2 separate regions of the Homo sapiens genome follow, and region 1 is linked to region 2. The links come from fine-mapping of genetic effects on gene expression. A gene starts in region 2. The other region holds a variant in brackets. All regions are shown on one strand. Distances are from middle to middle.

The links. PIP is the estimated chance that this variant, and not a neighbour inherited with it, causes the effect.
Region 1: its variant is the best candidate, but not a certain one, in a credible set for the expression of CRYBB1 in whole blood (TOPMed, PIP 0.67).

What each region holds. Positions count from the first base shown.
Region 1 is chr22:26,577,230-26,580,134 of GRCh38, reverse strand. All of the region lies in intron 1 of TPST2 (tyrosylprotein sulfotransferase 2), which reads left to right. Among named protein-coding and RNA genes, the nearest start is that of TPST2, 11 kb to the left of the region's middle. RefSeq lists enhancers at 1-361, 553-602 and a silencer at 333-412. The variant C/T (reference allele first, on the strand shown) is at 1,694.
Region 2 is chr22:26,616,744-26,619,648 of GRCh38, reverse strand. It overlaps CRYBB1 (crystallin beta B1), which reads left to right and starts at 1,622. Exons shown (of 6, transcript NM_001887.4): 1 at 1,622-1,672. It also overlaps a transcript of CRYBA4 not described here. RefSeq lists enhancers at 537-1,212, 1,891-2,568.

The DNA.
Region 1 (2,905 bases), 40 kb after region 2:
GTAGCTGGGACTACAGGTACAGACCACCACACCTGGTTCATTTTTTATTTTTTGTAGAAATGGGGTCTCACTATGTTGTTCAGGCTGGTCTTGAACTCCTGGGCTCAAGCAATCCACCTGCCTCAGCCTCCCAAAGTACTGGGATTACAGACGTAAGCCTCTGTACCCAACTTGTCTTGGTTTCTATTTTTGTCTCCCTGCCTCTCTCTCCCTCCCACCCATCCCCCCAACTCACGTCTTTCCCTGTCTCTGTCACTCTTTCTGTCTTACTCCCATCTTTGCCTCTCCTCTGACTCTCTCTCCCCATCTACATCCTCTGTCTCTATCTCCCTCTGTCTCTGCCTCTGTCTGTTTTTTTCTCTCTCTGTCTTCTTCCGCCCCAATCTGCACCACTTCCCCCTTCCTTCCCGCTGCCGACCCCAAGCCCACACAGGTGCCAGCACGGCCCTTCCTTTCTCTCATTAAAAACTTTTCATCCCACTTGCTTTGGCTGGTGGCTGACATCCTGCCACAGAACCATCCGGACCCTTGCAGAGCCCGGGGGCTCAGCCAGAAACCTTTGGAGGTGTGAGAAAGTGGTAGTAGCTACTTCCCAGGTGGAAGACAGAGGCCCTGTGGAGTCAGGCACCTGGCAAGGCCGCCCTACAAGGCCATGGTTTCCTCTCAACCCACACCCTTTCCACGCCCCCAGGGCCCTCCCTTCCCCACCGGGCCCCAGGGCTGTGGGGAAGAAGAGGAAGCCTGGGCTAGCAGCAGGACGGCAGATGCTGTTTTTGGTTTGATTTGGTTTGGGGTACTGGGGGAGTGTCGGCTACCCTTCCTCTGAGCACTGCTGGAAGCTGCATGCAGTAGGTGCCTTTGCCCTTCATTCTGCTACGTGGTCATTCCTTGCTCAAGTGCACAGTAGACCAGCAGTGCATATTTGATGGCTAAGAGTTTTGGGAAGAAAAACAAGGTTAGAAACTGAGTCTTGCCTCCAGGCTGGGCACAGTGGCTCACACCCATAATCCCAGCACTCTGGGAGGCCAATGCGGGCGGATCACTTGCGTGAGCTCAGGGGTTCAAGACCAGCCTGAGCAACATGGCGAAACCCTGTCTCTACAAAAAAGTACAAAAATCAGCCGGGCATGGTGGTGCATGCTTTATTCCCAGCTACTTTGGAGGCTGAGGTGGGAGGATTGCTTGAGCCTGGGAGGTCAAGGCTGCAGTGAGCCAAGATCACGCCACTGCACTCTAGCCTGGGTGACAGAGTGAGACCCCGTCTCAAAAAAAAAAAAAAAAGAAAGAAAGAAATAGGGTCCAGCTTTTTCTTTTCACAGATGGGGAAACTGAGGCCCAGAGAGTTGAGGTAACTTGTTCTGGATCATGCAAATAGCTTGGAAATAATGGGGTCTGGGTCTTCCATGCCTCAGAAACTGGGAACAGTGCACCCCTGTGTTGAGCTGGTGGCTGCTTTGACATCCCTCAGCGGTTGTTGTGTAGACACCGACTTCTGAGAGATGGGAGATTCTGGTTCGAGGCCTGGTTTGCTCTCCTCTACCTACTGCGGGACTCTGGGCAAAATCTTCCTTCTCTGAGGACCTTGGGGTCCCCAGGCATAGTCCCCATGGCACAGTCCTGAGGATCGCAGAGCGTGGTCAGGTTTGCAGGGTCGGAGGTTGCTGACCTCACCGTGGATGGAGGGCTTCTTCAA[C/T]ACAGGTTGCTGTACCCCACTTCCAGAGTTCCCATTCAGCGTGGTCTCCTTGAGCCCTGATAATCTGCATTTTGTGTAGGTTCCTAAGCGCTGTTCCTGCTGGTCAGAGAACCCACGTTGAGAGCTGGGGTAGTAGAGGTGCAGCAGACGAAGCACACGGGCGCTAAAACCTGCTGTGAGATCTCAGGCAACGACTTCACCTTTCTGTGCCTTGGCTTCCTCAGCTGTAAAATGGAATGACAGAGCACTGTCCTCATAGATTAGTTGTGAGGATTAAATGAGCGATTGGGAGGCGGAGATGCGCGGATCACCTGAGGTCAGGAGTTCAAGACCAGCCTATATAATTGATTTTAATTGAAATTCCTTTTGGTAATTCTTAAAGATAATAATACATTTTGATGTTTACTCATGAACATTACTGATATTCCTTCCTCCAGCTACATGATAATGTTTTCTCTCCTGTGGGTGAGATCTAAGAAATGAAACTCGGCCAGGCATGGTGGCTAATGCCTGTAATCCTAGCACTTTAGGAGGTCTAGACCTCCTCCTGAGGTCAGGAGTTTGAGACCAGCCTGGCCAACATGGTGAAACCCCATTTCTACTAAAAATACAAAAATTAGCCAGGCATGGTGGCTCAAGCCTGTAATCCCAGCTACTCAGGAGGCTGAGGCAGGAGAATCACTTGAACCTGGGAGATGGAGGTTGCAGTGAGCCGAGCTTGTGCCACTGCATTCCAGCCTGGGTGGCAGACAGAGTGAGACTCTGTCTCAAAAAAAAAAAAAAAAAAAAAAATGGCCGGGTGCAGTGGCTCACACCTGTAATCCCAGCACTTTGGGAGGCCAAGGCGGGCAGATTACAAGGTCAGGAGTTCGAGACCATCCTGGCTAACACGGTGAAACCCCATCTCTACTAAAAAAATACAAAAAATTAGCTGGGCATGGTGGCACACACTTGTAGTCCCAGCTACTACTCGGGAGGATGAGGCAGGAGAATCGCTTGAACCTGGGAGGTGGAAGTTACAGTGAGCCAAGATAGTGCCACTACACTTCAGCCTGGGCGACAGAGCGAGACCTTGTCTCAAAAAAAAAAAGAGCAAATATTTGTAAAGTGTGTAGAAAACCCCCCAGGCACACAGTAAGCACTATATGCATGTTCACTTTTTTTTTTTTTTTTTTTAAAGACAGGGTTTTGCCCTGTCACCCAGGCTGGATT
Region 2 (2,905 bases):
GGGGTGCTGGGTGGTGGAGGGACAGAGGCAAAGCTGGCTCCAGGCCAGGGAGAGTTCAAGACAGAGCTGGGCTCCACGGGGAGCCTAGAACCCCGAAAAAGAAGAGACAGGAGCCTATCCAGATGCCCCCGCAATATACCCTGCCTGGGACTGGGGAGCCGACTGCAGGTGACCTAGCTGAGCAGCTCCCCAGGCTCCTTCTGACCCCAGCTGTACTGTGAGTTCCCGCCATGTGACTATGTTGAAGTCATTTGTTCCACCTGGGCCTCGGTTTCTCCATTTGTGAAATGGGAGGATTGGGCCCTGTGATTTCTGGCGTCTGTTCCTCCGTCCTGAGGCTTGATCACCCCAACTTGACCTCTGTCTCTCCGTCTCTCGCTCCTTCACTGTCCATGTCCCCTGTGCCTCTCTGTGTCTCTGTCTCCACCTCTCTCTTTGTCTGTTACTTCTATCTGCCTCCTTACTTCTCTCTCCTTGCCTTGGTTTCCCTATCTCCTCCGTACCCTACCTTCTGTTCCGATCCATTGGAACCACCATTGAGTCACCAGTTATTGACTGAGAACCCATGATGTGCCAAGCTCTACCTAGCCAGGCCCAGCTAGGTGCTGGGGCCAGTGGTGAACAAGATGTGGTGGGCATCTGGGGCTTGCCAGGGCAGGAGGCTCTGGGACAGGCAGTCATATTTCTGGCCACCAGCACTGTCCTCCAGGTCAGATAACGTGGCCTGGGTAGAGGCGGGGAACTGGGGTGGCGAGAGGGATCACTGTCGATAGGTCAGGAAAGGATGGGGCCCAATGTGGGGAAAAGAAAAAGACCCAGGTCTCCGATATCCAACCCAGCTGAGCACAGTGCGACTCTCCCATTCCCACCCCAACCTACAAAGAGGAAGTCAGGCCAGGGGGCCTCAGGCCAAGGTCAAGGCTGGACAGCAGGAGAAGAAAGCACACAGGCCCAGAGCTGGCTGGCCTGGGCTGGCTCTGACCTCTCTGTGCCTTCACTTTCCTCTTCTGTGAAATGGGCATAATGAAAGTACCAAATAAGGCAGATTGTCCCGGGGACTGACCGAGATAACACGGGTTCGGCACACAGTAAGCACTCCGTAAAAAAGGCTGTCCATATCAAACCCACATCTGCCTTTACAAAACGCTTCTGTGCTCATTGTCACCTTCTTTTCTATATGGCATCCAACAGGGACACGTGCCCACCTTATAATTGCAGACACAGAGGCCCCCCTAGGGGTAGAGACCTACCAAAAGCCACACAGCGCGCAGTGGCTGAGTCAGGATTCAAACTCTGGTCTCCTGCCTCCCAGGGTCTCCCCTTTTCCCTGCCCCATGTTGGCAGCCAGCAGGGACCCTTTTGGGGGCCCATCCCTGGCTGGGGTTGTTGAGAAAGGAGTCAGGGTAGGGTTGGAAGGTGAAGCTGCTGTGGCCAGGGTTTCTGCTGTGTGTGCTGGTCTCACAAAGGAAAGTGCTGCTGTCTGCAGTGATCCAGGCGAGGTCAGGGCCCCAGTCCCCCACTCCCTGCCCAGGCCTGCTGAGCCAGCTTCCCCTTTGTGCCACAGACTATAGGGCCTGATGTCTGCCAGACTATAAAATGGGGGGTCGGACTCTAGTCACCCATAGCACCTGCCCGCCTGCCTGTCCTCCAGCAGGAAGTAGCAAGTCCCCAGGTAAGAGGGAACCCACAGCCCAGCTGAGAGCTGAAGGGGAGGGGAAGAGAAAAGGGAGACAGAGAGAGGGAGGCAGAGATAGCAGTGCCATGAGAGTCAGAGAGCAGGGCCATGGAGATAAAGACGGAAGTGGAGAGAGGAAGAAAGGGAGGGAGAGGGAGAGGGGAGAGAGTGAGAAAAGACAGAAATAGAGAGAGAAGTAAATATAATTAAAAAGGACAGATAGAGAGATAAGCAAAGATACAATGAGGGAGAGATAGTGGGGGAGAGAGGAACAGAGAGGGAGAGAAACAGACAGGCAGATAGGCAGAAAGAGGGAGAGAAGTAAGAAACAGATAGAGAGGCAAAGACAGGGAAGAGAGGAGGAACAGAGGGAGAGGGTGAAGCAGGGAGAGAGAGAGAATGAGAATATCTCCAGGAAGGCATGAGTCCAGCTGCCAGCCCTGGGGGAGTGTTTAAAGCCACAGATGTGGTCCAGATGTCTGGCCTCACCCCTGGTGAACAGGGGGCACCCCAGAATATGCACAGCCTTCCTGGAGGAGGCTGGGGGAGGGATGTGCTTATCCCAACTAGCTCCGCCTTACAGAATGTGTTCGGGAATCAGCTTGACCAGAGGGTCTTAATCTGTGCTAGCAGGGGGTCCTCAAATCCCTTAACATTGTCTCCAAAGTTAAAGAGAGCATTATTTTTGTCCGGGGACAAAGTTGAGGTATTCATCAAACATTCAAAGGAGTCCACGACCCCAAAGCAACAAGGAACCACTGGAATTGACCAAAGCCCTCTCCACCCAAAGCCTACCCAGCCCCAGTCCTCATTTTCAGAACCCTCCACATGCAGTAAATACATCCTCTTGGGTCCTCCCATAAGCCTCAGTCCCCGGCCTGTATTTGCACCCATACACCAACCCCTCAGAGGAAGCAGACGGGGAAAGGAGCTGGGAGCATGCATTCATTCATTCTCTGAACAAATGTTAATTGGGCATCTCCTATGTGCCAGGTGCAGAGCAAGTGTTAGGGATGGACGGTGAATAAATCAGATTAAGCAAATGGCAGAATACTTTAAAAGCCCAGTTGCTGGCTCCATTTCCTTGAGTTGAAATCAGAGCCCTACCACTTAGTAGCTGTTTGGGCCTGAGCTGGGCCCCTTCCTTCTCCAGCCCCCTGCTGCTCAGAGGGGATCATGATAGCAGCTACTCCATCGGGTGAGGTTCATGGTCAGATGGGTTAATTAATG